Homo sapiens: one gene and its partner. The protein of the gene in region 2 purifies or fractionates together with the protein of the main gene of each other region. This does not show direct contact. Each region holds a gene or a part of one and is shown on either strand. Other genes may lie near its edges. The genes, in order: ACVRL1 and ENG.

Evidence for each region.
Region 1: the proteins of ENG (region 2) and ACVRL1 purify together in Homo sapiens (affinity purification with western blotting; 3 studies listed by BioGRID and IntAct, with this or other methods). This does not show direct contact.

Annotation. Positions count from the first base shown.
Region 1 is NC_000012.12:51,905,613-51,909,720, reverse strand, and holds the start of ACVRL1 (activin receptor type-1-like isoform 1 precursor), read right to left. Parts: upstream 2,218-4,108; 5' UTR 2,026-2,217; intron 1-2,025. UniProt on the Homo sapiens protein: Type I receptor for TGF-beta family ligands BMP9/GDF2 and BMP10 and important regulator of normal blood vessel development. On ligand binding, forms a receptor complex consisting of two type II and two type I transmembrane serine/threonine kinases.
Region 2 is NC_000009.12:127,853,299-127,856,898, forward strand, and holds the start of ENG (endoglin isoform 1 precursor), read right to left. Parts: upstream 1,361-3,600; 5' UTR 1,058-1,360; coding exon 991-1,057; intron 1-990. UniProt on the Homo sapiens protein: Vascular endothelium glycoprotein that plays an important role in the regulation of angiogenesis. Required for normal structure and integrity of adult vasculature. Regulates the migration of vascular endothelial cells.

The DNA of each region.
Region 1 (4,108 bases), on a different chromosome or scaffold from region 2:
ATAGTCACTGAGCGTGTCTTAATAAACTTAAATTGCTGATAATAAATCATTCCTTGGTCATTGTTATTCCTCCAGTTGTTTGGGGTTAGATGAGTCCCTCAAAGGAAGAAAAAGACATGGGTCTCGGTGGACGTGTACAAATTGCCCACTACTGTTGTTATTAACGGGTGCCCTACTCAGATTTGTTTAAATGAAGACAGCGTTTTTGTTTGTTTTTAATTTTTTTTGAGACAGGGTCTTGCTCAGTCGCCCAGGCTGGAGTGCAGTGGTGCAATCATAGCTCACTGTAGCCTTGAACTCCTGGGCTCAAGTGATCCTCCCACCTCAGCCTCCCAAGTCCCAAGGGACTACAGGGGTGCAGCACCATGCCCAGTTTTATTTTTAGTAGAGATAGGGTCTCACTATGTTGACCCAGGCAACAAAGGTGGTGTTGCTGCCCAGAAATCATCTGTTTGCCATAGGCTTAGTCAAAGTCTGAGCCTCAGGTGGGGAGAGCCAGAGTAGTGGTATGCCCGAAAGGTGCTTATCAATGTTTTTCTCCCTAGCACACCTGAAGGATTGATAAAACCTACTCCCATCAACGGCAGTGGCTCAGCACAGCAGTGATCTTCACAGGGCTGGAGAAGCGCCATATCAAGCACAACCTTCTGGACTCACTCTGCACTTCAGTAGGCCTTACCCCAACAGCAGAGGAGCAGACCCAGCTGTTCATATTGGGTTGCCCTTACGATTCATCCATGTGATTTATTAGCCCTTCACAGCGGGGTGATGCAGTGGAACATCCAGGTGATGCCTGGATTTTCAGGTCTCAGGCAGACCATGGAGGCAGCACAGTGTAGCACAGAGGTTAGGGTGTGGGCTCTGGAGCATGGAGACCTGGGTTCAAATCCTGCCTTTGCCACTTAGAGGTATGAAATTTGAGACGTTACTTAAACTTTCTGAGGCTTAGGCTTCCCATCATATGTAAAGTGGGAATAATAATAGTGTTATCTCATAGGTAAAATGTAGTACAATTATTTAGCAGAGTATAAGTAGTACACAGTAAGCACTGAAATGTTATCAAGACCCCAACCATGCCATTCACCCCACCATCCAAGGAGTTTTGGACAAGTCCCATATTCATGTCTGTTTCCTTTTCTGTAGGAAGGGGATAGTAACCCCTCTTCCACTAGGTTGCGGCCAGGATTACATGAGAAAAAATATATATATCTAAGTGTCTACATAGTTAGTACTCAATCAATGGTAGCTATTTCTAACAAACCAATGAAATGGGGGGACAGGTGAGAGGACAGGTATTAGGACAGACCCTGACTCAGCCAGAAGCTGGCCATACATAGAGAGAGTGAGAGCAACTGTCCATTATGCCCCTGTCCTTGGAGAAGGAAAGAGGAGCTGGGGCAGCCAGCCCAGCCATGGGTTTCACAGCACTGGCCTCCATGGAAAAATCTGGGGTCCCAGCCTGGGGGGAGACTGGGATCCCCTTTGGCCTGGATCCTGAAGGAAGGTCGTGGCAAGGAGGTGACTGACCATGCGCGCCTAGGGTGAGACTCCTAGGTTGGAGTGATAGTGTCAGATTCCTCAAGCAACAGCTGGAAGGACTGATCTGGGAAAGGTGAGCTCTGCTGGGAGGCTCAACAGCTGTGGAAGTAGGCATTCACTCCAGGTCCACCCAGCGGCCTGGAGGACGTGTGATCCCTTCTATGTGAGTAGAGCAAGACAGGAATCCCACTGCCCATTTTATGAAGAGGGTAGGAGAACAGAGAAGTGAAGTCACTGACCCCAGGTCACCCGACTAGAACCAAGTTTCTGATTTCCAGTCCAGTCTCGTCCATTCCCCTCCAAGTCTCAGGTAGGGTCATGGGAGCTGTGCGTGGTCAGCCAGGAGCAGCTTGCCTTTCTAATGAGCTGGGACTGAGCCTCCCGCGACCACTCTGCGGTGACTCTGGGGTCCGCCCGAAGGAAGGGCCCACTGAAGCGGGGGTCAGGCCGCCCGCCACCCGGTCCCGTCCGCGGACCTCGACTCACCTCTGGGCCCGCTCTGCGGGTGGCGGGGCGCTAGCCTTCGGCGGACCGGGGCCACCTCCCCTCCACCGCGCGGCCGCAGTTGCACCGCCAGCGCTGGACGGCGGGCTGGGGTCCGGGCGCGGCCCCGGACCGGGCTGGAGCCGGGGAGGGGCTCGCTCGGCGCAGCTGGCGCGGCAGCCTCCCGGGACTGGGATGGGGGCTGGAGCAAAAATGTTTCTTATTCCAGCGTCTTCCTGCCTGGCCCAGCTCCACCACTCCCTCCTAATAAACCGTTTCCTTATTGCCCAGCTCGCCGACTGGCCGCCGCTCGCCCCTCGCTGGGGCTGCAGGACCGGGACCCACCCCCGCGCCGCTCCCAGCCCCTCAGGGCGGCCTCCCCTCCCAGCCGCCCGCAGCTCCCGGGTCGCTGGCCCGCACCCGGGCCGGGCCTCCCACATCCGCCTCCCCGAGGGGGCGGGCCTTGGACTCAGGCCGTGGGGGTCCTGTGGGGGTCCCATAGGGGTCCCGTGGGGTCCGGACCCACAGCCGTGGGAGACAGAGCCGAGACTGTAGGCAACGTCTGGCGGCCGGAGTAGTGGGTGGGGGTAGAGGGGGATCGGCTGGCAGCAGCGGAGGGGCCGCCTGGAATCGGGGCGCCGGGAAGGGGCCACCGAGGAAGGGACAGGCGGGGGTGGGACGGGGAGGGACACTACCTATCCTTACCCCACCCTCAGCCCGGGGGTCCTCGGTCTAGGAGGCTTGCAGCAATGAGGGCAGAGTTTGGGGCTAGCAAAATCCAGATGCGTTTTGACTCCGCCCTCGGGAACTCCCGACTTGGCCCAAATCCTTCAGTCCCCTCCCTCGGGCCCCTTCGTCCCCCATTTGTCCCCTCCTGTCTTCAGCAGCCTCTCCCGATCCGCACTCAGCACAGGGGTATACAGGCCCAGAGGACGGCCTTGGGTTAGCCCTGAGGATGGTTTGAGCCCTTCCTGGCCGTTGTGCAGCTGGGTGACAAAGACACCCCCGCCCCGCCAGGGACAGTCAGGATGGAGGGACACGCTGGGAGCAGCCTTGGACCTTCCCCTTCCAGGCAGGGCCCCCACCCCAGCAAATGGAGCTTTAGATAGAGGTGGGGAATGGAGCCTCCCTGGAACTCTGCTGACACAAGGCAGCTGGGGAGGGAAGCAGAATGGCTTCATACCGGCAGGGGAGGGGGACACAGACTCTTCCTGATGCTCCTGCACAGGCTGGGAGCACTGACCTCACTGCCCTGCTTTGCTCCAACCATCTAAGTACCTGCAGGACTCTGGTCTTAGTCCTAGCCTCCTGGTTATCCACAGAGACTCTGAAGTCAAACTACCTACTAGGAATGCAGGCTGGTTGTGTTACCGTAGGCTAGTGACACCTCTCCATGCTTCAGTCCCCCATCTGCTAAATAGGCATAGTAAACCGTGCCAGCCTCATAGGGTGGTTGTGAGAATAGACGGAAATGATGCTTATCTCAGCTCATAGCAAAGATGCTGGCTGGCTGAGCCTGACTCAGAGGAGGCCCTCAATGAAGGCGTTCGTTAATTAAATGAATAAATGAAAAGGCTGGGGAGGGGGTGGCCTCAGAGACACTTGGAAAGACGTGGGTATTAGAAGCAGGAGTAGACCTCTAAGGTGTCTTACTCTAATATGGGGATTCTACAAGATGAGCCAGGGACCCCTCCTCCTGCCCCGCCCCACCTTTTGACAGGAATAGAGGCTGGGGGAGATAATGGCTAAAAGCTCAGACAGGCATCAATTATTGACTGACCTCACTTCCTCTGCTGAAACCCTCCCCATCCCCCACCCCACAGCTGCTTCACAAGTTGTGAGCGTTGTGAATTCCCAGAACCCTGACACACCCAAATTTCAGTGTCAGGACAGAACTGTGTCCTGCAGCCAATAGGAAGTACTATGGGATTACGATATCTGCTCTTTCAGATTATAGCGGCCACTTGGGCCCTCTACGAGCTGGAGAACTGGGAGCCTGGCCGCGGGTCTGTCTTTCACACTCTCTCTCCCTGCTCCGCTATGGCTTCTGGTCAACCTTTTCCTCCCCCAACCCCTGGATCTCTGT
Region 2 (3,600 bases):
TTCCCCTTCCTCCCCACACTCTCAGCTCATTTCTGCCCCTCTTCCCCCAAATCTGTCAGGAAGCCCCTGGATGCACAGGTGGGTCAAAGGATGTCCACAGGACCGGCCAGCGGCTTGAGGTGGCCGAGGGATAGGGAGTGGGACATGGGGCTGGGGGTCCCTTGCTCCTCACCGCCCCTCCTCTGGTCAGTTTCAGAAAGCAGCAGAGGCCATGACCCCTTGGAAGAGCCCCCAGGCCAAGGAGCCCCACAGAACCCCTAACCTGGCCTGCACCCACTCCTGCACCCTTTCTGGGGATCAGGGAGGTAGGAGGGAGGCAGGGCAGGGCCCTGCAGCCTTGGCCTGTTCAAAGGGTTTGAGGAGCTGCCCAAAGGCCCTGGGGAAGGTGAGCTGGAGGAACTTAAAGCTAAAAATAAAACAACACAGAAGTGGCCAGTCTGCCAGAGCCCTCTCTGCAATGATCCCTCACCACCCACCTCCTCAGCAGCTCTGAGAGGGAAGTCTGTTCTCTTCCCCACTTCGCTCAGAGGCCCGAAGGCAGTCCCCCAGGATCACACCACAAGGAAGTGCCTATGTGAGATTTGAACCCAGAGACGGTGCTCAGAGCCCAGGCTGTGGGCCCTCCTTCCCATCCATTCCTCATGGGGAAACTCAAGGCCCAGAGAGGCCAGGAAACTCTCCCGTCGCTGCACAGCATTCTGGGACCTAGGCTTCCCGGGGAGTAATGGAACGCAGCTGGGTGAGCAGACGCCAGAGACCAGGGTTAAAGTGAAAGAGTCAGCCCAGTTTGCCCGAGGCTTTCTTTCAACACTGAAAGTCCTGCATAACCATTTAGTTCCAGCAAACTGGGAGGGTTGGTGACCCTCCAGAGCCCCAAGGATGGCTCTGCTGGGCGTGAGCTCAGGATACAGGAAGGAGGCCGGGAATACTTGGGGCCTGGTCCGTGCACCGGAGGCCGAGTCTCCCCACCCTGGGTCCCTGGACACCTACTTGTGGGGCTGAGGCTGCAGCTGGCCAGCAGCAGGGCAACAGCCAGAGGGAGCGTGCCGCGGTCCATGCTGTCCACGTGGGGGCCTGTGCGCTGGGCCTTATCCTGTGTCCAGTGGCAGGGCTGCGGGCGGGCACCGGGGCCGGCGTGGGCTCGCACGGGGACCCGAGGGGAGCAGGCGGCCGGAGCGACGGCGTCCCTGCTCCAGCCTTCTGGGGTGGCGGCCGAGGGGTCAGGAGAAGTGGACACAGGGACGCGGGGCTGGGCTGGAGTTGCTGTCCGAAGGATGGGCGGGGAGGGGGTGCTGGGCTCCAATGGATGGCAGTGACAGCAGCAGTCCTGGCCCCAGGGCGCAGATGAAGGCTGTGGTATGACCGGCAGCAGGGAGCTCCTGGCTCATCCAGCCCGGCCGGCCCAGGGAGGCAGGAAATGCGCTTCCTTAGAGAAGGGGCTGGGCCAGGCCGCCTGCCAACCGGGTAGAGGAAGTGCCACGGGCTTTGTCACTGGGTGGGGGGCCCTGGGATGGGGGGAGGCAGTGGGGTGGGAGGGCCCAGGCTCTAGGCTTGTCTCCCCAAGCACCCCACCCTCCCATCCCACCCTCTCCAAGGCTGGTGGGTGGGACGCATCAGGGAGCCCCACAGATGAAAACAATCACCCTAACAGCCCACCGAGGGGAACTTTCAGGGGGCCGGTCTTGGCTAAAGTAGTTCCTGTAGAATTTGTGACCCACCTGAGCTCACTGATCCCATTTTGCAGATGAGGAAACAGAAATCCGATGTGTTGAGATCACTGGTTCAAGAAGATGGTAGCGCTGGGATCCTGCCCACCTCCACCACTTCACGTCTTGTCGGGCATCAAACCCGGCCTACTAAGTGCAGTTGACATGGGGCTGCCTAACAGGCAGGAAAACTGAAGCTCAGGCTAGGGAGGGAAGTCCCAAAGTGGCACAGCAAGGCGGCTAGGGCTGGCGTCTCTGGGCTCAGAGGAGCTGCCCAGGGCCACACACTTCACGTCTGACCCCTTCATGGGTGGAAAATCCTTCACCGACAAAACACAGCTCCAGGCCGAGTGTAGTGGCTCAAGCCTATAATCCCAGCACTTTGAGAGGCCGAGGCAGACGGATCACTTGAGGTCAGGAGTTCGAGACCAGCCTGACCAACATGGTGAAAACCCATCTCTACTAAAAATACAAAAGTTAGCTGGGCATGATGACGTGCGCCTGTAGTCCCAGCTACTTGGGAGGCTGAGGCTAGAGAATCACTTGAACCTAGGAGGCGGAGGTTGCAGTGAGCTGAGATCAGACCACTGCACTCCTGGCCTAGGTGACAGAGTGAGGCTCGGTCTCAAAAAAAAGAAAAGAAAAAAAAAAAGAAGACAGCTCCAAATTATGGGGACTTTAATGGCACTTCTGAAGTCACGTGGCCCTGGGTTCAAATCCGATTCTGCTTGCTCCTAGCCATGAGACCTTGGACAAGGCCCCTCAATTCTCAGCACCCCCTGTTTGCAAAGTGGGGCACGATGCCTTCCTGACCAAGCCATTATGAGATTTCTGAGGGTCAGGACACTACAGCACTGAGCCCTGGGACATACAGGAGATGCTTCCCCATCAGTGCTCCCTGAGCTGGGTGACAGTCCCCAAACTGTCCCATGTTCATTCTGCAAACAGTAAGCGCACCTACTATGTACCCACCGTGGGACTACTCACAGGTAGCACCCAGGGCCAGGCCCATGAAAGCTCAGAGAAGGAATCCTGGGCCACCTGGAGGGCCTGGTATTTAGGCCTGCCCTTTGAAAGACTGGGTGAGTTGGGATTGGGGAGAAGAAGGGGTGAGGAAAGCATGCCAGGCAGGGGTGCCAGACTAAGCAAAGGCACAGAAGCAGGAAACAGTCGGACCACCGTGAGACCAGCAGGGGTGTGGTGGGGACAGGAAGCTGGAGAGGCAGAGTCTGGCCCTGCATTGGGAGGGCCTCAAATGCCAGGACTTTGTCCTTAGGGCCACTGGGAGTCATGGAGAGTTCTTGAGCAGAAGGACGCTGGCAGAGCTAGGCTTTGAGAGGCCAAATCTTTGTGTGTGCTGGCAGGACCCACGGTGAGATGGAGCCAGAAGGTTCTTCTCCCTGGATCCACCTGCCCTGGGTCACAGGTGGAGAAATTGAGGCCCAGGGAGGGAGGAGAAGGCTGAGGCCCTGGGTGCCTCTGGAGGGAGGATGTCTGTCCAGGGTCTGAGGCCTTGCCTCTCCGTGCTTATTGGCCGGCCCGGGTGACAAGAGTAGGCCGTGTGTTTGTCTCTGCAGGAGCTGTCACAGCGGCTGGGAGGGTCGGTGTGGCTCTTTGGGTGGGGATTAGGGATAGTTTTGCTTGCCCAGCCTTGTGGCTGCCTGGCCAGTTTGCAGCCAAGCGTGGCTTTGAGGTCAAGGGAGAGTGTCCTCTCCCAGAGGGCCACCCTGAGAAGGGCATCTCCTCTGCCTTTTCCTGTAACCTCGGAGACAAGGCCATGGGCACTGCGAGGCAAAGGGTGGCTCGGTGGGGGTTCAGGGGTGGCTCTGAGGTTTCCACAGGCCCCAGACCGAGATCTGTGCCCCAGGGACAGTTAATCCAGCCCTAGGAGCTG